Homo sapiens: one gene and its partners. The protein of the gene in region 1 purifies or fractionates together with the protein of each later gene. This does not show direct contact. Each region holds a gene or a part of one and is shown in the gene's direction. Other genes may lie near its edges.

The links.
Region 2: the proteins of PNPT1 (region 1) and PEX7 purify together in Homo sapiens (co-immunoprecipitation; one large-scale study listed by IntAct). This does not show direct contact.
Region 3: the proteins of PNPT1 (region 1) and TMEM67 fractionate together in Homo sapiens (co-fractionation; one large-scale study listed by BioGRID). This does not show direct contact.
Region 4: the proteins of PNPT1 (region 1) and CLTB fractionate together in Homo sapiens (co-fractionation; one large-scale study listed by BioGRID). This does not show direct contact.

The regions. Positions count from the first base shown.
Region 1 is NC_000002.12:55,645,345-55,651,519, reverse strand, and holds part of PNPT1 (polyribonucleotide nucleotidyltransferase 1, mitochondrial precursor), read left to right. Parts: intron 1-4,066; coding exon 4,067-4,173; exon of another isoform or gene 4,174-4,247; intron 4,248-5,033; coding exon 5,034-5,105; intron 5,106-5,197; coding exon 5,198-5,261; intron 5,262-6,087; coding exon 6,088-6,171; intron 6,172-6,175. UniProt on the Homo sapiens protein: RNA-binding protein implicated in numerous RNA metabolic processes. Catalyzes the phosphorolysis of single-stranded polyribonucleotides processively in the 3'-to-5' direction. Mitochondrial intermembrane factor with RNA-processing exoribonulease activity.
Region 2 is NC_000006.12:136,867,109-136,873,283, forward strand, and holds part of PEX7 (peroxisomal biogenesis factor 7), read left to right. Parts: intron 1-2,781; coding exon 2,782-2,895; intron 2,896-5,089; coding exon 5,090-5,145; intron 5,146-6,175. UniProt on the Homo sapiens protein: Receptor required for the peroxisomal import of proteins containing a C-terminal PTS2-type peroxisomal targeting signal. Specifically binds to cargo proteins containing a PTS2 peroxisomal targeting signal in the cytosol.
Region 3 is NC_000008.11:93,756,905-93,763,079, forward strand, and holds part of TMEM67 (meckelin isoform 1 precursor), read left to right. Parts: intron 1-1,578; coding exon 1,579-1,672; intron 1,673-2,955; coding exon of another isoform or gene 2,956-3,089; intron 3,090-6,175. UniProt on the Homo sapiens protein: Required for ciliary structure and function. Part of the tectonic-like complex which is required for tissue-specific ciliogenesis and may regulate ciliary membrane composition.
Region 4 is NC_000005.10:176,392,540-176,398,714, reverse strand, and holds part of CLTB (clathrin light chain B), read left to right. Parts: intron 1-667; coding exon 668-785; intron 786-996; coding exon 997-1,108; intron 1,109-2,182; coding exon 2,183-2,236; intron 2,237-5,769; coding exon 5,770-5,941; 3' UTR 5,942-6,175. UniProt on the Homo sapiens protein: Clathrin is the major protein of the polyhedral coat of coated pits and vesicles.

The DNA.
Region 1 (6,175 bases):
CCCTGAGTGGACACAGCACATGTTTCAGAGAGCACAGGGTTGGGGGTAAGGTCACAGATCAACAGGATCCCAAGGCAGAAGAATTTTTCTTAGTACAGAACAAAATGAAAAGTCTCCCACGTCTACCTCTTTCTACACAGACACGGCAACCATCCGATTTCTCAATCTTTTCCCCACCTTTCCCCCCTTTCTATTCCACAAAACCGCCATTGTCATCATGGCCCGTTCTCAATGAGCTGTTGGGCACACCTCCCAGACGGGGTGGTGGCCGGGCAGAGGGGCTCCTCACTTCCCAGTAGGGGCGGCCGGGCAGAGGCGCCCCTCACCTCCCAGACGGGGCGGCTGGCCGGGCAGAGGGGCTCCTCACTTCCCAGTAGGGGCGGCCGGGCAGAGGCGCCCCTCACCTCCCGGACGGGGCGGCTGGCTGGGCGGGGGGGCTGACCCCCCCACCTCCCTCCTGGACGGGGCGGCCGGCCAGGCAGAGGGGCTCCTCACTTCCCAGTAGGGGCGGCCGGGCAGAGGCGCCCCTCACCTCCCGGACGGGGCGGCTGGCCGGGCGGGGGGCTGATCCCCCCACCTCCCTCCCGGACGGGGCGGCTGGCCGGGCGGGGGGCTGACCCCCCCACCTCCCTGCCGGACGAGGTGGCTGCCGGGCAGAGACGCTCCTCACTTCCCAGACGGGGTGGCTGCTGGGCGGAGGGGCTTCTCACTTCTCAGACGGCGCGGCTGCCGGGCGGAGGGGCTCCTCACTTCTCAGACTGGGCGGTTGCCGGGCGGAGGGTCTCCTCACTTCTCAGACGGGGCGGCCGGGCAGAGACGCTCCTCACATCCCGGACGGGGCGGCAGGGCAGAGGTGCTCCCCACATCTCAGACGATGGGCGGCCGGGCAGAGACGCTCCTCACTTCCCAGATGGGATGGCGGCCGGGAAGAGGCGCTCCTCACTTCCTAGACGGGGTGGCGGCCGGGCAGAGGCTGCAATCTCGGCACTTTGGGAGGCCAAGGCAGGCTGCTGGGAGGTGAAGGTTGTAGCGAGCTGAGATCACGCCACTGCACTCCAGCCTGGGCACCATTGAGCATGGAGTGAACGAGACTCCGTCTGCAATCCCGGCACCTCAGGATGCCGAGGCTAGCGGATCACTCGCAGTTAGGAGCTGGAGACCAGCCCAGCCAACACAGCGAAACCCCGTCTCCACCAAAAAAATACGAAAACCAGTCAGGCGTGGCGGCGCGCGCCTGCAATCGCAGGCAGTCGGCAGGCTGAGGCAGGAGAATCAGGCAGCAGTACCGTCCAGCTTCAGCTCGGCATCAGAGGGAAACCATGGAGAGAGGGAGAGGGAGACCGTGGGTAGAGGTAGAGGTAGAGGTAGAGGTAGAGGTGGAGAGAGGGAGAGAGGGCAGGATTTTTTTTAAGTAAGAATTCTTTACCAATCCTTCTTTCCCCAACATAAAATCTCCTATTTGAAGTGGAGTTTGAGGTAGGGACTCGAGAGGCAGTGCCTCAAGAAAGCCACACATTGTACAATCTGAAGGTTATTGTTACGCTAAGGAGTTTGGACTTAAAGCCAGCATTTTTCCAATTCAGTATTCCATGGAATAGTGTTCCACAGGACATTGATTATTGTATACCATGAAAAAGTTTATTCTGTTCTAAAGTTAAGTTTCAGCAGGGTTAAGCAGGTTTATTTAATATGGATTAAATAGACTTTAATAAGCTAATCCGAATACTGACTCTCTAGGAATAGGACATGTAATATTTTTCCAAATTTATTTGACCACAGAATATGTACAAAAATTTCCTGAAAGTAGGCAATGGGGAACTTGAAGGATTTTATGGAAAACAGTGGCATGATTTGAATCTGCTTTTGTTTTTTCCAAACAGTTTTTCCCAGCTTAAGTGATGAATAGCCCTGCGGAATGAGATGGGAGAGACTAAGAAGCAAAGAGAGAAAGTAAAATCTGGGAAGCCAGACAGGGAGATTGTTGCCAGGGCAAGAAATGATATGGACTCAGACTAAAAAGTTACAATAGGTATTTTAATATTTAGGGTAAAGGACAGCTTTCTAAAAAAATAAACAGATCTTTGTGACTTGATGGGATATAGGAAATGAGGAAAGAAATGTTGATTCTGGCATGAGTGTCTTAGTTGCTTTCAACCAAAGAATGCAGGAGGAAAAGGATTTTTTGACAGTGATTCAATTTTGAACATATATGTATTTCTTTCATCATCATCATTATTATTATTTATAGAGATGAGGTCTCAATATATTGCCCAGGCTGGTCTCAAATTCCTGAGTTCAAGTGATCCTCCCATCTTGGCCTGCCAAAGCGTTGGGATTACAAGCATGAGCCACTGGGCCTGGCTCAATTTTGAATATATATTTAAGGTGCTTTGGGGACATTTAGCTGGAGATGTCTGACAGGGAGTTTACTAATACAGGTCCAGGGTTTGGCACAGATAGCTGGACAGGAGGGATAGATTTTTAAGTCATCAACATTATAGATGGTGGTTAAAATCGTAAGTATAGATGAGGTTGCTTAGAGAAAATGAAATGAGATCCACACTCCTTTATACCAAAGTAAATTCCAAGTGATCAAAACTTAAACATTTTTAAACAAATGAAAGATGGTAGGTTTTATCAAAATCTTGGAGAAGAAAAGCTCTGCTAAGCAAAACCCAGAAACCATGATTACGTAAACTAAAAATCCTACACAGAAAACTAATGACCATAAGCAAAGTCAACGAACTAGGAAATAAAATATTTTATTTATATGTTATTAAACATAATATTTTATCTTTACATTTTAATAAAGCTCTGTCCATATTGAAAGAAAATCAGTAATAAAAAGACTGCCAACCAAGTAGAAAAGTGTTGAAGGCCATGAACAGGGAGTTCTCAAAATAAGACATATAAATAGGTTTATGAACATGAAATAGTTTTCAACCTCAGTCATAAAAAACAAGTCAGATTTAAAATAACCATTTTTTACACTTTAAATTGAGAAAAATCAAAAGATTTGACAAGAATTAATAAGAATATAGAGTAGCATATACCTTCTTACACCACTGGTAAAAGTTTAAAATGCTATGTCTTTAGAAGGCAGTTTGACAGTCTAACAAACGTAAATGCACATACCTTTTGACTCAGCAATCGCACTTCTGTGTGTGACTTGTAAAACATACAGGGAGTACTAAAACTATTCAAAGGAATAAAGTAGAGCTTTGTGTGGTGGTATGTGTCAATATCCAAGACATGTTATTAAGTGAAAAAGGCAAGGTGCAGAACAGTAAATGCATACAGTCTGCCGCCACGAGTAAAGAAAACAAAAGATTATATTTACATTTATACTTGTGCACAGAAATTTTCTAGGAGGATACACTAATGTTAGCTGCCATGGGGAGGTAAACTGAGGAGTTCAGGCTGGAAGAATTTACCAAATAGATGCTTACTTTCCAACAAAAAGAAAATAAGACACCTGAAGCAAAAAAGCAAACCAACGGATAATTTAAAAGTTATAAAGTTTGCTATTGTTAGAGAAGTTTTTGCTGGATATAGTACTTGTTTACATTGTTTTAGGGAACTTTATTATATGTTCAAAAACAAACGAAGTAGTCAGATGACCTCTTAAGACTTCCAACTCAGCTTCGGTGATTGTCAATTTAGGCAACAATATCCACTTACATTAAAAGTAAATGTCTGCTGGGCGCGGTGGCTCACGCTTGTAATCCCAGCGCTTTGGGAGGCTGAGGCTGGCAGATCACCTGAGGTCAGGAGTTCAAGACCAACAGGGCCAACATGGTTGAAACCCCATCTCCACTAAAAATACAAGCAAATTAGCTAGGCGTGTTGGCGGGTGCCTATAATCCCAGCTATAGGGGAGGCTGAGGTGGGAGGATTGCTTGAACCCAGGAAGCAGAGGCTACAGTGAGCCAAGATCATGCCACTGCACTCCAGTCTGGGCAACAGACCGAGACTCCCTCTCAAAAAAAAAAAAAAATTGATAGATAAATATTTGTTTTAGGCTCATGTACACATTACCCACAGTTGTTCTTTTTCCCAATTATAGGGGTTCCAATTTCATCTGCTGTTGCAGGCGTAGCAATAGGATTGGTCACCAAAACCGATCCTGAGAAGGGTGAAATAGAAGATTATCGTTTGCTGACAGATATTTTGGCAAGTATATTCTCGGTTTCAAATATTTAATAATGAAGACTAAAAATAAATAAATAAAAATTAAAAGATAAAAACAAATAATGGTGAAGACTATATGTACTTTGCACCTAGCGTATGCTTAGAAGAATGCTAGTATTTGAAGAACAGGTACTTGTTCTTCCCTTCCTCCTCTGCATGTTCACCTTGTATCTTATAGGATATGAATTTAAAATAGATATTATATTAATAGTAATAGGCCAGGCACAGTGACTCATGCCTGTAATCCCAGCACTTTGGGAAGTCAGGAGTTCCAGACCAGTCTGGCTAATGTGGCAAAACTCCATCTCTACTAAAAATACAAAAATTAGCCTGGGCATGGTGGCACACACCTGTAATCCCATCTACTTGGCAGGCTGAGGCAGAATTGCTTGAACCCGGGAGGCAGAGGTTGCAGTGAGCCAAGATCGTGCCACTGCACTCCATCCTGGGCAACAGAGCAAGACTGTGTCTCAAAATAAGTAAAATAAAATAAAATAAAATGATTACTTTAAAAAAATAGTAATACTTACCCTTAAGTATTGCAGTAATACTTACACAGTGTAAGTATTCATAATGACTCACTTTAGGATGAGCATAAATTCATTCTCAGGCATTTATGAGGGAAAGGAATGATCTAAAAATAAAATGATGTTTCTGGTGAAAATAATTGTAGCTTAAAAAGTCACAAATTGGAAGTGGTAGTTAATGTAGAAAACATTGCTTTGTGTTTGGACTTAGGATATGGTTTACTTCTAAAGCTGTTTTTTGAAATGTTTCTACAGTGAATATGTTGACTTTTGTTTTTGTTTAAAACTATGTCATAACTTTTTAAATTCCTGAAGGGAATTGAAGATTACAATGGTGACATGGACTTCAAAATAGCTGGCACTAATAAAGGAATAACTGCATTACAGGTATTTTTAAAACCCATTTTGTTTCATTTTTGTAACATTTAAATAATGCCATGAGTCAATATTTATATAATTGTTTGACTTTTCCATATTAGGCTGATATTAAATTACCTGGAATACCAATAAAAATTGTGATGGAGGCTATTCAACAAGCTTCAGGTGAGCTAGTGTGCTTGATTCTCCCTTCATTCTTTTCCACTTTGCTAATGGGAACTATAGTTCTCATTAGGCTTATTATAAAATATTGCTTTAAAAAGTGGAATTTCATATAACTTAGATCAAGAAGTACTGGCCAGGTGTGGTGGCTCATGTCTGTAATCCCAGCACTTTGAGAGGCCGAGGCAGGCAGATCACTTCAGGTCAGGAGTTCGAGACCAGCCTGGCCAACATGGTGAAACCCTGTCTCTACTAAAAGTACAAAAATTAGCCGGGCATGGTGGTGCATACCTGTAATCCCAGCTACTCAGGAGGCTGAGACAAGAGAATCGCTTGAGCCCAGGAGGCAGAGGTTACAGTGAGCCGAGATCATGCCATTGCGCGCCAGCCTGGGTGACAGAGGGAAAATGTCTCAAAAAAAAAGAAGTACTAAGTAGCCAGGCATGGCATGGTGGCTCATCCTAGCACTTTGGGAGGCCAAGGCAGGAAGATTGCTTGAGCCCCAGGAGTTCAAGACCAGCCTGGGCAACGTAGTGAGATCCCATATCTATTTTAAAAAAAGAAGAAGCACAACTAAGTTTTTGGGACACATGAATACACGCCAAAGTGGGTTACCAGTGAAATTTCAATTTTTACAAATTAAACAACTCTATTTAAGATGGGATTTTTGGAGAAGAGAATATGAGTGAATTTTCAAGGTAATAGGGATGTGGAAAGCTTCAATTATTAAGCTACAGGGTTTAGATTGTATACCGTGAAAACTAAGAGTACAGTATTTCAGATCATATTTGTTTTATGTAGTTATAATTTTTGTGTTTTTCTCTTCTAGTGGCAAAAAAGGAGATATTACAGATCATGAACAAAACTATTTCAAAACCTCGAGCATCTAGAAAAGAAAATGGACCTGTTGTAGGTAA
Region 2 (6,175 bases), on another chromosome or scaffold:
TAATTTGACAGTCCATCAGTTTTTAAATTTTTCTGTTTTATCTTCCTTTTTAAGCCTAACCAATTTTCATGCCTCTGTAAGATAAGTGTCCATGTGCAACTTTTTTAAAGCTTCAGTTAACCACATGAGCGTATGAATCAGAGATAGAAATGGATTAAATATGTGTTAATATACTACAGTCATGCACTGCATAACAACATTTCAGCCAGTGACAGATTGCATATGTGACAGGGCCCGTAAGATATAATGGAGCTGAAAAATTCCTATTGCCCCCGAAAACCTTCCAGCAGGACAAGATGTGAAGGTAGAAGACAGTGATATTGATAATCCTGACTCAGTGTAGTCCTAAACTAATATGTGTGCGTCTCAGTTTTTAAAAAAAGAGTTTAAAAAGTAAAAAAAAAAATTAAATAGAAAAAAGCTTATAAACTAAGGATATAAAGAAAGAAAATATTTTTGTATAGCTCTACAATGTGTTTATATTTTAAGTTTTGTTATTATGAAGAGTCAAAAAGTAAAAAAAGCCAGGCATGGTGGCAGGCGCCTGTAGTCCCAGCTACTCGGGAGGCTGAGGCAGGGGAATCGCTTGAACTGGGAGGCAGAGGCTGCAGTGAGCCAAGATCACGCCACTGCACTCCAGCCTGGCAACAGAGCAAGACTCCATCTCAAAACAACAACAACAACAACAACAAAAAACTTTAAAAAAAATTAGAAAGTTTATGAAGCAAAAAATTACAGTGAGCTAAGGTTAATTTATTATTGAAGAAAGGAAATAAAAAATAAATTTAGTGTACAGTAATGTTCTAGGCCTTTCCATTCACTCACTACTCATTCACTCACTGACTCACCCAGAGTAATTTCCAGTTTTGTAAGCTCCATTCATGGTAAGGACCCTACTACCATTTTTTATCTTCCATACTATATTTTTACTATACCTTTTCTATGTTTAGATACAGAAAGCCTTACAATTGTGTTACAGTAGCCTACAGTATTCAGTACAGTAACATGCTGGACAGGCATGTAGCCTAGGAGCAATAGGCTGTTTCATCTAGCCTGGGTGTGTACTAGGCTGTACCACCTAGGTTTGTGTAAGTACACTCTGTGATGTTCACGCAAAGATGAAATTGCCTAATGCCACATTTCTGAGAGCATATCCCCATCATTAAGTGATGCATGACTGTATTTATGTCCCTGAAGTGGTCTGTTGACCGTGACAAATAGGTAAAATGTATGCTTTGTTTTTTTCCCAGTTTTAAATTAATTAAAGTTAAAAGAACATTGTATTGGCAGAGTTCTTTAAATAAAAATAAGTAAAATAAGTTAAAATATAGTATATATACAATGATATTACTCAATCTAAACATTTCAATGCTGATGACTATAGTTTCAAACTCATAAATGAATGTTTCATATTGGAAAATTAATTATGGCCTGTATGTTAGATGTTTGGGAACTCTAAAGAAAGATGCTGATAGACATTTGAGAGTGATTTACAAAAATTATTTTCTAATAACTGAAACTTTTCTTCAAATTAGCTTAAACTAAAGCCCAACATAGTCAGACAATGTTAGGTTGGTGCAAGAGTAGTTGCAGTTTTTGCCATTACTTTCAATGGCAAAAACTGCAACTACTTTTGCGCCAACTTAAATCCATTGCTGTTCTGAGTTATGTGGGGTGGACTGAGTGTGGACCCAGCACTTGTCCTATTCAGCCAGGACCTCTGGGTTCACTTGGGGCTCTAGATAGCAGAATTTGTAAAGCCGGAATAGATAAGAGACTCACCACTATTTGATTACATTCTTGGATATGATTAGATATCGTATTAAGAATTTTGGTCCAAGAGAGTTGGAAACAATGATTAATTTAGATTTAGAGAACATGGAAAAATTTAATTCATAGCCTTTGCTTTTTCAGATGTGCCTAAATGAACAGACCTCTTGCCTTTTAATGCCTGGAAAAACCTCAGAGTATGTTGAAACCCTTTTTGTTTGTTTGTTTTTTAGAGATGAGGTCTCACTGTTGCCCAGGCTGGTCTCAAACTCCTGGGCTCAAGTGATCCACCGGCCTTGGCCTCCCAAAGTGCTGGGATTATAGGAGTGAACCACCGCACCCAGCCTTGAAAACCTTTTTTAAATTTTTATTTTTTTTTTAGAGACAGGGTCTCGCTGTGTCATCCAGGCTGAGGTACAGTGGGGTGATCATACCACACTGTAGCCTCTGACTCTTGGGCTCACACAATCCTCCTGCCTCACTCAGCCTCTCAAGTAGCTAAAATTACAGGTGTGTGTTACCACGCCTGGCTAATTTTTTGGGTAGACAGGGTCTTGCTTTATTGTCCATGCTGGTCTCAAGTTCCTGGCCTCAAGTGATCCTCCCACCTTTGCCTCCCAAGGTGCTGGAATTCCAGGGAAAACCTTTTGAAGAGAAAGCTGGGCTCATTTGTCAGATAAAATTTTTAATCCCCTATGTATTTACTGCCGCTTCTAAAGCTGAATTAGAAAATCCACAATGCTGTTTGGAACTATGCCTTTTCCAGCTGTCTGTAGTGTTCCATCGTGTACATAAAGCATATTGAGTTCTTTTTCTCACAAGTCATATTAGTTTTTTGCTATTAATGTCTATGTTGATTCCTGTCTATACTTGTTATACAACTTCTCAAAAATGACTCCTTGGTTCATATTAAATAGTTATCAGAAAGCAGATGTTGTTTCTAGTAGGAAAGCCTGCATACTGTTTAATTGCAAAGATGTCACAGTTTATGTTTCTCTGAATTGTTTTTAGAATTTGCTGGTGACCGGGGCGGTTGACTGTAGTTTGAGAGGCTGGGACTTAAGGAATGTACGACAACCAGTGTTTGAACTTCTTGGTCATACCTATGCTATTAGGAGGGTGAAAGTAAGTTTTCATCTTTTCTTTTATATGTAGAATAAAATTATATAAATATAATCAATGAAGTGTATATTAAAAAGTGTTCTGGGTTTAGGGATTGGAGTTACTAATTCTTTTTTATATGTGTTTTTGTTACCCAATTAATTAGTAGTGAAAGCTAAAATTAGGCAAAAATATTTGAATAATGATTGAATGAATTTGGGCAATGTAGACATTCAATACTTAAGGTTAAATAAAAATCTTTTTCTCATTCTTTCACCTCCAATCTGTTTTTCCTTTAATATATTTTTTTAACTATAGTAATTCACTTTTAGTATTATGTTCTTTATAAGTTTCTAATTAGCGAGAGTCTCTACTTTGTTGAAACAGATGTAAAGAGATGGTTAATTCTTTCTTTTTCCTAACATGATAACATACATGACTGTTCACAGATGTTTGGGATATAGAAAGTTTTCTACTCTGTGAACAGCAGAGGATGAGGTAAATTTTTAATGATGGTCTCAGTAAATTTATCTGGGTTATAAGATGACTTAGGTTGGTTTCCTGGCTTTTATATTTAGGCAGGTTCTGCTAAATGACTGTGGAAAACATCTTATTAAGTGACATCTCCCAATTTCATCCTTTTGTTTTTTTACGTTAAGGATAAAAAAGTACCTTATTGATTATTTTAATAAGGTAATTATGTTATTCCTACTATTTAAAAAATTCTAAATTTTTTTTTCTTTTTTTTTGAGATGGAGTCTTGCCCTGTCACCCAGACACGATCTCAGCTCACTGCAACCTCTGCCTTCTGGGTTCAAGCTGTTCTCCTGCCTCAGCCTACTGAGTAGCTGGGACTACAGGTGTGCACCACCATGCCCGGCTAATTTTTTTGTATTTTTAGTGGAGACAGGGTTTCACAGTGTTGGCCAGGCTGGTCTTGAACTCCTGACCTCAAGTGATCTGCCTGCCTTAGCCTTCCACAGTGCTGGGATTACAGGCTGAGTCACTGTGCCTGGCCAAAAATTCTAAATTTTTAGTTAAGTTAATATTTTAAGTTTCTCTGGCTGCAATGCAACATAGGAGACACAGTGCTCTGTTTTATTTTTTAATAAATTTGTTTAATTGGACAAGTTTTAGCAGTTGAAAAATATGCTCTATGTATATTTTAGAGTGATTATGAGAATGAAATAAGGTAATGTAGTGAAAGTACTTTGCAAACTAAGTGCTGGTCAAATGTAGTTATATATGTGTATTTAACTATTAAAGTGCGATAAGACAAACACTGAAGAAATGTAATTGCAAAGGTCAACTTATTAAGTACATTATTACTCATCTAGAAGACGTTACTTGTCTTTAAACTTGCTTTTTACCCTTGATATAATTTTCCATTAGCTGTAATATACAAATAACGTAAAAATAACTTAAGGGTGTTTTTATTTAACATTTAAATGTTTATTTTGATAACGTGATTATAGCAATCATATATTTGTAAAATTGGTAAATTATATAATTATATATTTGTACTCTTATATACTTAAATCCCTTATATTTGTAAGAATCATTTTTGTTTATTACTTTGTTTGCTTTTGCTTTTTTTGAGCCAGAGTCTCTCTCTGTCGCCGGGGCTGGAGTGCAGTGGCATGATCTCGGCTCACTGCAACCTCCACCTTCTGGGTTAAAGCAATTCACCTGCTTCAGCTTCCCCAGAAGCTGAGATTATAGGCATATGTGCCACCATGCCCATCTAACTTTTGTATTTTTAGTACAGGCGGGGTTTCACCATGTTGGCCAGGCTGGTCTCGAGCTCCTGACCTGAGGTGATCTGCCCTCCTGAGCCTCCCAAGGTGCTGGGATTACAGGTGTGAGCTGCTGCATCTGGCCTGTAAGAATCATTTTTGGATAGCCAATATGAAATTGTATTTAATTTTTCCAGAATAGCAACATTTTGGGAATATTTTATTCTAAATAAGTTCTAAAAAGCTTGAGGGATAATTTTCTTTGGAGAATGTAAAAATATTTTTCCTGAAGATGGATACTTATAAGGCCAGAAGATTTTTGCCTCAAATTATAGCATATATGCTTTGAAAAAGCATAATTTTAAGTGACAGCTCTGACTCAACTTAAATTTATTATAATGTTTATGGAATGATCATAGAAAGCAGTGTTATAATCACAGCTGACTTCAAAAAGGGTTTTTTTTTTCTTTTTTTTTTTGTAGTTTTCACCATTTCATGCTTCTGTGCTGGCCTCTTGCTCGTATGATTTTACTGTAAGGTACAGTGGTTTTTAATACATTTCATTGTGAAATACCAGGTAACATTTGCATCTTTGCAACTTTTATAAGAGATAATATGATTACTCTTACTAACATGAAAATAATCTGAGATGGGTACATTTAAATATTTACTAGGATTAATATTATATTTTTCCTGTTTTCGTGATCCAGTCACATATATGAGTAAATTTTTTCTCTTCAAATATTAGCCTGGCTATTCTGTTTAAAAGCCATCTTTTCTAATAGATGTTCCTATGGTAACACTTTCCTACACTATAGATGGCATAGCCAATATATTCTAAATTTAGATATAGAAATTTGGAAATTGCATTTCTTCAGGTCTAATTATATGAGTCGTAAGGCTAAGATTGCTTAGATGAAAAAACAATGAACATGAGTGTATGATTTTTTGTGAATGTAGATATATGAACATGTATGTGTATATATGTGCATGGATATCTAGATAAGAGTGTGTGTGGGTGTGGGTCTCTATTTATACTTCCAGTTACAGTTCCATACCACAGAGGATTTATTTTCCCTTTCCAAATTTGTAACTCTTGACTTCCATTTTATTCACAATATATTTTCTTATGTGTTAAACCCTGTAATGCTTAGAAAGTAGTTCAGAATTGCAAAGCCATACCTTTGAAAAAAACAATCTTACTAATTAGAGCTCAGCACTTGCTTAGAGTTTTTTTTGTCTTTAGTTTGAATACTATATTCAGAAGTTACTTAGGTTAATTCTCCTCTTCTCTGTTAGAGTGTGGTTATGTTATTCACTTGAAACATGGTTTGATTCCTTTGTTTCTGTTTGTATTCAATTTTAGGGTTTTCCTCCCATCCTTGTTGATTTTGTCTAGGCAAAACATTGACATGGTTTCAAAAGTCAAGATGTACATAAAGATATATTCAGAAAGGTTTCCAGGATTTTCACTAAAATATATCCTGGAAATCATTCTGTATCAAAGAGATCATTCTCATTCTGCATAATACACCATTGTGTGGATGTGCTATAGTTTATTTGGCTAC
Region 3 (6,175 bases), on another chromosome or scaffold:
CTCTACTAAAAATACAAAAATGAGCTGGCTGTGGTGGCGCGTGCCTGTAGTCCCAGCTGCTTGGGAGGCTGAGGCAAGAGAATCGCTTGAACTCAGGAGGCAGAGGTTGCAGTAAGCCAAGATTGCACCATTGCACTCCAGCCTGGGTGACAGAGCGAGACTCTGTCTCAAAAAAATAAATAAAATATAAATAAATAAATAAATAAATAAATAAATAAATAAATAAATTGTCCTGTATAAATGTATTGCCAAATATAGGAGTATTTCTTGATAAATTCAGTCTTTTCAACCAAAATTTAAAATAATTTGTGGCATTATTTTTGTTCTTTATAAACTTTGGTTACATCTGTGTTTGTAATTATTGTGTTTTTTGCCCCAGGCTTTTCCTAAACCATATGATATAATAAGCCCAATTTTGAATGCTGTCATACTTTATCAAAAACCTTTACTAGGCCGGGCGCGGTGGCTCACGCCTGTAATCCCAGCACTTTGGGAGGCTGAGGCAGGTGGATCACGAGGTCAAGAGATCAAGACCATCCTGGCAAATGTGGTGAAACCCCATCTCTACTAAAAATACAAAAATTAGCTGGACGTGGTGGCACGTGCCTGTAGTCCCAGCTACTCGGGAGGCTGAGGCAGGAGAATTGTTTGAACCTGGGAGGCAGAGCTTGCAGTGAGCCGAGATTGTGCCACTGCACTCCAGCCTGGCAACAGAGCAAAGACTCTGTCTCAAAAAAAAAAAAACCTTTACTAGTACAAGCCATAAATGGATAGAAGAAAATATTCTCATAAATCAATTTTAACAACTATGTGTATAATTTATATATTTCATAAAATTTACCCATTTTGAATCATAAATGAATTTTTTTTTTTTTTGAAAGAGAGTATTACTGTTGCTCAGGCTGGAGTGCAGTGGCACGATCTCAGCTCACTGCAACCTCCACCTTTCTGGTTCAAGCCATTCTGGTGCCTCAGCCTCCCAAGTAGGATTATAGGCATACACCACCACGCCCAGCTAATTTTTGTATTTTTAGTAGAGACGAGGTTTCACCACATTGGCCAGGCTGGCCTCAAGCTTTGGCCTCAAGTGATCCACCCACCTTGGCCTCCCAAAGTGCTGGAATTACAGACGTGAGCCACTGTGCCTGGACTAAATTTTTTAGGTATTTGAATTTTTAAAAATTAGAATAGAGTTTTAGAACAGGTAAGATTAACCTATTAACTGACCGTTGATTCAATCTTTTTGTGTTGTGTTGTGTTTTATATTTGTAAATGGAAAAACGAAATGACAAATAATTATGAAAGAGGCATCCATTTGAATTAAAGATCCTGAAGAAGAGAGAACTATTATCCGGAGTTAATCCTTTAATAGTTTTCAGGACATAGTGATAATATAGAGCTTCATTTTGGAATATAAGCATGAATTATCTCTCCAGGGAATTTTTATGTGGCTCATATATGTATGATTTATTTGAATATTCACTGTAGTTACATACTCTTATGGCATTTTGAACTTACATGATTAGAAGAAGAAAGTTAATTAAAAAAGAGAAAAGCATTTTTTTTCTTTTAATTTAGAAAGGTGTTACAGAAGATGGCTGGAACTGCATTTCTTGCCCTAGTGACTTAACTGCCGAAGGAAAATGTCACTGTCCCATTGGCCATATTTTAGGTAAGAATTAGATTCCTTATAAAGAAGTAGTGATAAATCTTCATTCTTGTTTTTGTTTTTATTTGAAAAGGGCACTAATTTAAATAGTTAAGTGATTACTTAATATTTTTGCAGTGGCTCAAGCAATTCTCCTGCCTCAGCTTCCTGAGTAGCTGGGACTGCACACATAACACCACTGCAGCTGGCTAATTTTTAAATTTTTTGTAGAGACTGGGTCTCGTTATGTTGCTCAGCCTGGTCTTGAACTCCTGGCCTCGAGAGATCTTCCTGCCTCAGCCTCCTAAAGTGCTGGGATTATAGGCATCAGTCACTGTGTCCAGCCCTTAATAGTGTTTATAAAAATTATTTTTGTACAAATTAATGATACTTAAAACATCAGCAGGCATTGAGAAGAAAATACAAAGTTTTGTCTGAGTTTTTTAAAACTCTTAATATTGTAGGATTAGATGGTTATTTCCTTAACATAACATGACAAAATATGTCTCAACTCAAAAGCCAACTTGATACTTAATAGGGAAAAAGCGTAAGCATTCCTGTTAATGTCAGGACCTGGAAAAGGATGCAAACTATGCACTTAAGTAAGAGAAAAAAAATATTTATCATTGGAAAAGAAAAGGTAGGCCGTTGTTAATCCTAGCACTTTGGAAGGCTAAGGCAGGTGTATTGCTTGAGCTCAAGAGTTTGAGACCAGTCTGGGCAACATGGTGAAACCGCATCTCTACAAATAAAAAAAAAAATTATTTGGTTACGGTGGCATGCACCTGTAGTCCCAGCTACTCGAGAGGCAAAGGTGGGAAGATCGCTTGAGCCTGGAAGGTCAAGGCTACAGTGAGCTGAGATGGCGCCACTGCACTCCAGCCTGAGCGACAGGGTAAGACCCTGTCTCATGAAAAAAAAAAAAAAAAAAAGTAAAATATCATTGTTTACAGATGATTTGATTGTATGTTTAAAACACCCAACAGAATGACTAAAAATTATTATAAACAGTGATGGAAGAAAATACCTCATATACAGTAGCAACAAAAAAGAAAAAATAAGTAGGCATATCCTTTTTTTTAATTTTAATTTTTATTTTTGTTTTTTTTTTTTTGAGACAGAGTTTTCACTGTTGTTGCCCAGGCTAGAGTGCAATGGTGTGATCTTGGCTCACTGCAACCTCCCTCTCAGGTTCAAGCGATTCTCCTGCCTCAGCCTCCCGAGTAGTTGGGATTATAGGCATGTGCCACCACACCTGGCTAATTTTATATTTTTAGTGGCTAACAGGGTTTCTCCATGTTGGTCAGGCTGGTCTTGAACTTCCGACCTCAGGTGATCTGCCTGCCTCAGCCTCCCAAAGTGCTGGGATACAGGCTTGAGCCACCGCACCTGACCTTGGCATGTACTTTAGAAGGAATGTACAACATAATTGAAGAAATTTGTGAGTATTACTGAGGGATATGAAGGCAGGCTTTTAAGTGAAAATGCATTCTTTATTTTTGGATGGGAAGATTAAATATTAGAAAGATGCAACTCTTCTACCAGTCTGTATATTTTAAAGGACCCTAATAAATTCTATCAGGATATTATTTGTTTGTTTTGGGGTAATATACAAATAGAGTCTGAAGTTTAACAGGAAAGTTATATGAAAAGCTAAGAAAATTCTGGGAAGGGAAAGAAGGAACTACCCCATCAGATAATATGCATGTTATATAGCTACTATAATCACATATATGACAGGCTTATGGATACACAGACTGATTGATGGAACTTAAAACAGGCAATCAGAATAGATTCAATTCATATAGGAATTTGGTATGTGAAAAAAGTGGCATTTCATATAAGTGGGGATAAAACTGATTAATGATGCTGGGAAAACTGAGAAAACACCCAGGTTGGGTTTCTACCTTATTTCTGAGAAAATTAAACTCCAAATGAGTCAAATACTAAATATGAATATATGAAAGTTCTTAAAGAAAATGCAGGAAAAATTTGTATAGTTTTGGTTTAACAGGCCTAAGTATGACCAAAAATACTCAGTCACTTTGGAGGCCTAGGTGGGACGATTACTTGAGCCATGGAGTTCCTGACCAGCCTGGGCAATATAGAGAGACTCTGTGTCTACAAAAAAAAAAGAAAAAAAGAAAAACCACAGAAGAAAAAATTGGTAAATTTATAAAATGCCATAAAAATTATAATACCAAAAACCAAACTACAAACTAAAGAAAAATATTAATGCATACAATAGACAGAGGTCGAAGTTCTTCAATAAATGTAAAGCTCCTACAGATAAATAAAAGTAAGATGAATAACCCAATTTTTAAAATAGCCAAGAGTCATAAATAAAGTTCACATAGAAAAAAATATTTTAACGTGAGAAAAAAATGTTCAACTTTACTCAGAGTAAGAAAATGTACGTTAAAGCTAAAATGAGATTTTATTTTTAACCTACCAGATTTTATTATAAAATTTTTTCGACCGGGCACAGTGGCTCACGCTTGTAATCCAGCACTTTGGGAGGCCGAGGCAGGTGGATCACCTGAGTTCAGGAGTTCAAGACCAGCCTGACGAATGTAGTCGCTATTAAAAACTCAAAATTAGCCTGGCATGGTGGCACATGCCTGTAATCCCAGTTTCTTGGAGGCTGAGGCAGGAGAATTGCTTGAACCCAAGGAGGTGGAGGTTACAGTGAGCCAAGATCACGCCATTGCACTCCAGCCTGGGCAACAAGAGTGAAACTCCATCTCAAAATAAAAAAGAAACTTTTTCAACTTTGACAATGTATTTATAAGGATACAGGGAAATAGTTATTCGTGTATTAATGGGAAAAATTTTAAGTTGGTGCAACCTCTGTGGAAAGCAAATTTATGGTGTTTATCAAAATTAAAAATACAGATTATCTTTGCCTGGAAAGCTCTCATCTAGAAATTTCTCATTTGGATACACTTAACTGTATGCCTGAAGAAGTGTTGAATGTTTTTTTCTTGCAACATTATTCCTAAGACAAAAGATTATAAACAAAATAAGATTCTATCAAGATGAGATCAATCAATTAAATTATGATATAGTCATACAATGGTATAGAATGCAATTGTGGAAAAATAAAGAGGCAGTTCTACACATAGTGCTATGGAAAGAAATCTAAGATATATTGAGTAAAAAAGCAAGATTTGGAATAATTTATTCATTCATCTACAAATGTTTATTGAGTACCTGCTATTTATCAGCACTATTTTATGTACTTGGTATTCCACTATTTAGCTTTTTAAAGACCATTATATATGCATATGTGCTTGTATATGCACAGGTTATTTCTGAAAAGACTCATAAGAAACTGTTAACAATGCTGCCTCCTGAGTGAAGAACTGAGTGCCTGGGAATAGTGGGAAAGAGACTTAATTTTCATTTTAAATCTTTTTTTGCTTGGTGCAGTGTTTCACGCCTGTAATCGCAGCACTTTGGGAAGCCGAGGTGGGTGGATCACCTGAGGTTAGAAGTTCAAAACCACCCTGGCCAACATGGTGAAACCCTGTCTCTACTAAAAATAGAAAAATTAGCTGGGCATGGTGGCAGGTGCCTGTAGTCCCAGCTACTTGGGACACTGAGGCAGGAGAATCACTTGAATCTGGGAAGTGGAGGTTACAGTGAGTGAGATCACGCCACTGTGCTCCAGCCTGGATGACAAGAGCGAAACTCTCTCAAAAAATAAAATAAAATAAATCCTTTTGTGCCTTTTATTTTTATATTTCATATATTACCCAAAGATTAATTTTTTAATTATCTTTACCTTTTTTTTTTTTTACTTTTTAACAATTTTTTTTTTTGTGGTGATGGGGGTCTTACTATATATCTCAAGCTGGTCTTGAACTCCTGACCTCAAGCAGTCCTCCTGCCTTGACCTCTCAATGTGTTGGGATTACAGGTGTGAGCCACCATGCCTGGTCTTATTTTTTCAGAGACGTGGTCTTGTTATGTTACCCAGGCTGGATTCAAACTCCTGGGCTTAAGCAATCTACTGCACCCAGCTTCTTAGTAGTTTCATTGGCACTGTTGCCTCCATTGAAAATATTAACTTGATTCTCACGGTATTTGGGGGGTGTATTCTTAGGGATGGGACTAATGAAAGTTTTATGAGTTGGATGGCAATATGAAATTTATTACACTTCATGATGTACTAATTTTGGTGTGTGTGTCTCTGTGTGTGCACATTCAGAATTTTTTTTCCCTGTTTTATTATAAGGATCTACACTATATAGCCACAGGAAACATAAGTGGTATGTTTGCATAAATGTTTCATACACAAATATTGTTCTAGCATACTTTTTTCAGTTAACGGTATGCTCTGATGCTCTGTTAGATTTACCTGATTCTTTTTGTTTGTTTGTTTTTTGAAACAGGGTCTCACTCTTGCCCAGGCTGGAGTGTAGTGGTGTGATCTCAGCTCACTGCAACCTCCACCTACCAGGTTCAAGTGATTCTCATGCCTCAGACACTTGAGTAGCTGGGATTACAGGCACGTGCCACCAC
Region 4 (6,175 bases), on another chromosome or scaffold:
TTGAGACGGGGTTTTGCTCTTGTTGCCCAGGCTGGAGTGCAATGGTGTGATCTCGGCTCACTGCAACCTCTGCCTCCCGGGTTCAAGTGATTCTCCTGCCTCAGCCTCCGGAGTAGCTGGGATTACAGGCATGCACCACCACGCCTGGCTAATTTTTTGTATTTTTAGTAGAGTCGGGATTTCTCCATGTTGGTCAGGCTGGTCTTGAACTCCCAACCTCAGGTGATTTGCCGCCTCGGCCTCCCAAAGTGTTGGGATTACAGGTGTGAGCCACTGCGCCCGACATTCTTTATAATTTTTAACTCATTTCATCCTTATGTCCTCCCATCAGAGTGCATACTGTTATTTAGCCCATTTTATGACAAAGAAAGTGGCTGGCACACGCTTTCTTGAGTCTTCTGCTTTGGGGGTATCAAAACCTATAACTGGGCCAGAGGCAATGATCAGGCACAGAGAGGGTGAGTAACTTGCCCGCAGTCACACAGGTGGCGGAGTGTTGCTGGCAGAGGGAACAGCAAGTGCAAAGATAGGTGTAGTCACCAGAGACAGTGGGTATGAGGTTGTTTGAGGCTGAGTTATCCAGACATGAGTGGGTCCCCAGCAGGGGCAGCAGAGACAGCGGGGCAGGTGTGCTGGCTGGATAGACTGCTGCGTGTTTGTGTTCTAGGAGGCCAACGGTCCTGCTGATGGCTACGCAGCCATTGCCCAGGCTGACAGGCTGACCCAGGAGCCTGAGAGCATCCGCAAGTGGCGAGAGGAGCAGAGGAAACGGCTGCAAGAGCTGGGTGAGGGCGGGGCTGAGGCGGGGTTGGCTGGGTGGGCTGTGTGTGGGGTGGAGTGTGGGGAGTCCTCGGAGTGCATGGGATGCTGCATGCCTTAATGTGGGACTGGGCCGGTGCGGCCCTGTGGCTGCCTGGCAGGGGCCAGGGGAGGAGCGCGGCCGGGCCTGTGCATCCCAGCTGGAAAGCAGCCACTCATTCTCTTGTGGGGTCCTAGATGCTGCATCTAAGGTCACGGAACAGGAATGGCGGGAGAAGGCCAAGAAGGACCTGGAGGAGTGGAACCAGCGCCAGAGTGAACAAGTAGAGAAGAACAAGATCAACAACCGGTGAGAGGGCTGTAGGGACATGAGGGGGCCATGGGGACATGAGGGGGGCTGTGGGGACATGAGGGGGCCGTGGGGACATGAGGGGGCCATGGGGACATGAAGGGGTGGGGACATGAGGGAGCTGTGGGGACATGAGGGGGCCGTGGGGACATGAGACGGGCTGTGGGGACATGAGGGAGCTGTGGGGACATGAGAGGGGCTGTGGGGACATGAGAGGGAGCTGTGGGGACATGAGAGGGAGCTGTGGGGACATGAGAGGGGCTGTGGGGACATGAGAGGGGCTATGGGGACATGAGAGGGGCTGTGGGGACATGACTGAACACTGCCCAGTGCTCCCTGCCTTTGAGGCTCTGTCCTTCACGGTACAAGGTCTTCCAGGAAGGGAAAGGCCTGTTCTGGGAAGCTACCCTTCTGTCTAGGGAACTGCTGCATGCCAGGCTCTGGGGTAGGCACGGAGGAGATGGAGATAAGGAGGACCCAGCCTTATGTCCTCAAAGGGCGCAGAGGAGAAAAACACACATGTTCAACTAAGCTCAAATACAGTAGGGCCCTCTGCACGAAGGCCATGGAAGCAAGGAAACAGGTCAGGGAGAGACCTCTGTGTCTTGGGACTTGGGCTTTGGAAGATGACTAGGAGGAAAAAAGGGAAAAAAGGGCAGGAGGTAGGGGGGCATTCTAGACCTGGGTACGAAGAAAAAAATGTGATGTATTAGGCAACAGGGGGCCAGGGAGCGGTGGGAGAGAAGGCAGGAACCTGTGGACTCACACTGTAAGGGCCTTGGCTGATGAGTTGGGCAGTGACATGGGCAGTGGGGAGCCACTGAAGGTGTTTGAACAGGAGTAACATGATCAGGGATGAATTTTAGAGAAGGTGCTGGGGCCAGGGTGAAGGTCCCCATTCTCCTGTTTGGGGCTGTGGGTCGTTGCTGAGCCTTCCAGAACTATGCTTCCTAACATTTCTCCCACTGGAGGTACTAATGCTGTCTCTCTCTCTCTCTCTAACCTTCTGCCTGCCTGTCTGTCTTGCCATCTGCCTTCCCCCACCTAACCCCTTCCCTCAACCTTTCCCTCAAGGATCGCTGACAAAGCATTCTACCAGCAGCCAGATGCTGATATCATCGGCTACGTGTACGTGTCTGTTTTGCTTCTCTGTTGGGGGAGCTAGAGAGGGAATGGCCACCACAGTTTCTTGAGTTTCCTGCTTGTGGGATATAAATGAGTGTGGCTGGGCTCGGAGCAATGGTCAGAACAGGAGGCAAATGCCCTGGTGGGTGCAGGCAGCAACCACCTCCCTCCCTCCAGTGAAGTGGAGGCTGCTTGGCTAAATCAGAGCCTTGCAGGATAAAGGCAGAGAAAGGAATGTGCTTGCCACTTATTCCCATGTGGGAGGGGCAAATGGCAGAGCACCCCAACTCCCTCCCTCTGTGATGTCTCTTGGTGGGTGTGTGGGGTGAAGGGTTTTTTGTTTTTTGAGATGGAGTTTCGCTCTTGCTGCTCAGGATGGAGTGCAGTGCTGCGATCTCGGCTCACTGCGACCTCCACCTCCTGGGTTCAAGCGATTCTCCTGCCTCAGCCTCCCGAGTAGCTGAGATTATAGGCACATGCAACCGTGCCCGGCTAACTTTTGTATTTTTAGTAGAGACGGGGTTTCACCATGTCGGCCAGGCTGGTCTCGAACTCCTGACCTCAGGTGATCCACCCACCTCGGCCTCCCAAAGTGCTGGGATTACAGGCATGAGCCACCACACCCAGCTGAAGGGGTCTTTTATTCAACAAAACAGACACTGAGCATGGGATGCTGGAGGCATGTAAAGGACAAGAGCTGCTCCTTTGTGACATCCATCTCTTCCTCCTGCCCCAGTGCACTGACTTTGGCCATCAGCCCCTGCCCAGACCACCACAGGCCCCCTCACATGTTTCAGGTTTGGGGTCTACTTGGTGTGATGAGTAATCAAGACCAGGGTTGGCAAACAGGTTATATCTCGTGCCGACGTCAGTTAGTTGGTAGAGACATCCTGGAGGGTGGTGGTGGGGATTGTGGAGCTGAAGAGAAGGTACTTGCTGTTCTTCACTCTAGGTGTGCCCTGGCAGCCCGTCATGTGTCGAGGCTAAGCCTCCTCTCACAGGGCACAGAGCACACCAGAGCCTTCGTCTGCTTCCTTCCACTCTCCCTCATTTAGTACTCTTTGGCACTCGCCTTGTGCCAGATTGGTAAGACACCCACAGGCCGCCCCCCTCACCGTGCTCATGGTCTGGAGTGTGTTATGATAAGGGCCTTGTGGAAGGACACAGTGAGCTCTGGAAGCCACTCTCTGCCTGGGGAGCCTGGGCAGGCTTCAGAGATGCAAGACCTTCAGCTGACCTTAAAGTGTGAGAAGGAGTTTGCTGGATAGGGAGGGTGGGAAGAGAAGGTGGGAGGAGCAGCTGGGGCCAAGGCATCCAGAGAGAAAAGGCCCAGCTGGCTGCAGTGGCTGAAGCTCTACAGGCTGGGATGGTGGGGATGGTGGGGATGGTGGGGATGGGTGGGAGCTGAGGCTGGGAGGTGGTTGGCTTGGGGCTGGTTGCAAAGCGCCTGTTGTGCCAAGGCTGAGCTCAGACTTGATCCAGAAGGCAGTGGGGAGCCACAGGAGGCTTCCAGCAAGGGATGGGGATGTCAGATGGGCATGGGTGCTGTGGAATACCACAGGGGGCTCGATGCTTCTGTTGAGCCTGAGGAAATGGCCCAGAGAGCACCCAGGAGAGCCCTGAAGAGAGAGTATAGACCAGGGCTTCTCAAACTTTTTTTTTTTTTTAAGACGGAGTCTTGCTCTGTCACCCAGGCTGGAGTGCAGTGGCATGATCTCAGCTCACTGCAACCTCCGCCTCCTGGGCTCAAGCAATTCTTCTGCCTCGGCCTCCTGAGTAGCTGGGACTACAGGTGCCCGCCACCATGCCCGGCTAATTTTGTGTATTTTTTAGTAGAGACGGGGTTTCACCGTGTTAGCCAGGATGCTCTCCATCTGACCTCGTGATCCGCCCACCTTGGCCTCCCAAAGTGCTGGGATTACAGGCATGAGCCACCGCGCCTGGCCACACCCAGCTAATTTTTTGTATTTTTAGTAGAGATGGGGTTTCACCATGTTGGCCAGGCAGGTCTCGAACTCCTGACCTCAAGTGATCCACCCGCCTCTGCCTCCCAAAGTGCTGGGATTACAGGAGTGAGCCACTGCGCCCAGGCTCAAACTTTCACATGCCTATGAATTACCAGGGGGTCTCGTGAAAACCCTGATTCTGATTCAGCAGGACGGTGGGGAGGCCCAAGGGTCTGCATTTCTGACAGGCTCTGTCGTCATGCTGATGCCATTGGACCATGGACGCTTTGAGCTGCAAGGACAGAGGGGAGCCTCTGGACCCTGAAGGGACAGCTCCGAGGATAGCTCCCCTCATCCCCACTTGCCACCCAGCTCCACGCAGCACTTTCCTTTTTTCCAGACCTGCTTGCTACCTCATTGAATTCTCAGTCCAGTGAAATAGTTGGTAGGGCAGAGCTATGATCCTCATTTTACAGGCTAGGAAATGAGCATACAGCCAGCATCCCTAGAGAGGGGCCAGGTCACCTGATCCGGGGTCAGCTCTTCCATGGAGCGCTCCTGCCATCAGTCATGTCTGGCATCGGCAGAACTGGTCCTGCTTGAGATGGAGAGGGGGCTTCCAGGGACTTGTGAGCGACCCTCGCTGGCCAAACAGGACATAGACCCAGCTCTCCTCACCTAAGAATCCCTTATTGTCTTTCTGTTAGTGAGTCCCACGTGTAGATTTTGTCCACTAGACTGTATTTACTTGTTTCCCCACTGTCCCTTAGTCAGTGGCTTCTGTGACTGTCAACCAGAACTTCTGATGAAGGACCGCCAGTTTTCATCCTAACTTGATTCCAACCAAAAGCAGACTCCAGTGGAGCATTCATGCCCCAGGCTGTGGCTCCTCAGAGACAGTGGTGGTTCTGGGCTACAAAGGGCTCTGTGGTGAAAGACGCTTGGGATGTGGTGGATTCCATCACATACACACCTTGGAGGGTCACGACGCACACAGCACATGAAAGGCTTTGAAAGTCTTGCTGTAAAGATCCTCTTTAGCTGGGTTTTCCATAGGTATTTGACCACAGTCTTTCTGGAGAATCCTCACACAGAACATTCAGGCAATGCTGAACTAGGTGCTTCTGTTAGATGGTTAGTCAGTGTCCTACTTCTGCCAAGTTTTTGGAAATGGTGAAATAGCTAAGGTCCTGCATTAGGTCGTCCTAGGACCTCCAAGGGTCTTTAGGTGTCAGGAACCTCAGGTTGGGAACTCCCGATGGGGAAGTAATGAACAGAGGGTGCCTAGGCTGGGAAGACTTTCTGAGGAGGTGAGGCCCGCACTGAGACCTGAATGACAAGAAGCAGCAAGCCAGGAACAGGTCTGGGAGAAGCGTGTTCCAGGAAGAGGTGATAGCAAGTGCCAAGGTCCTGAGGCAGGACCAAGCTAGGCTTCCTCCTGCGCCAAGGCTGCCCTCCTCTGAAGTCAGGGGGGCACAAGGCTGGGGAGGACACAGTGCCCCAGAGTAGGCTGGGCAAAGCAGCCTTGCTCAAGGGCAAGGCTGGGGGAAAGCAGACTGCTATAAAAGCCCGTCCTATCTCCACCCGCAGGGCATCCGAGGAGGCTTTCGTGAAGGAATCCAAGGAGGAGACCCCAGGCACAGAGTGGGAGAAGGTGGCCCAGCTATGTGACTTCAACCCCAAGAGCAGCAAGCAGTGCAAAGATGTGTCCCGCCTGCGCTCGGTGCTCATGTCCCTGAAGCAGACGCCACTGTCCCGCTAGGTGCCTGCTAGGTGCATGGCCACAGAGCATGGGCTGGGCCTGGGCACAGGAGGAGCAGCTGCTTTGGTCGGGGTGGAGACTCGCAGCAGCTGCTACCCACAGCCTATTCCACTCCTCCCCATCTCCAGGCGCTGGGAGGGGGGCCCTCACCCCATCACGCCTCGCTCCCTCCTGGCCCTCTGGTCCAGCCCCTCACGCCTCCTCTCAGTCTACTCAATTGTGACTGTCCCTCCT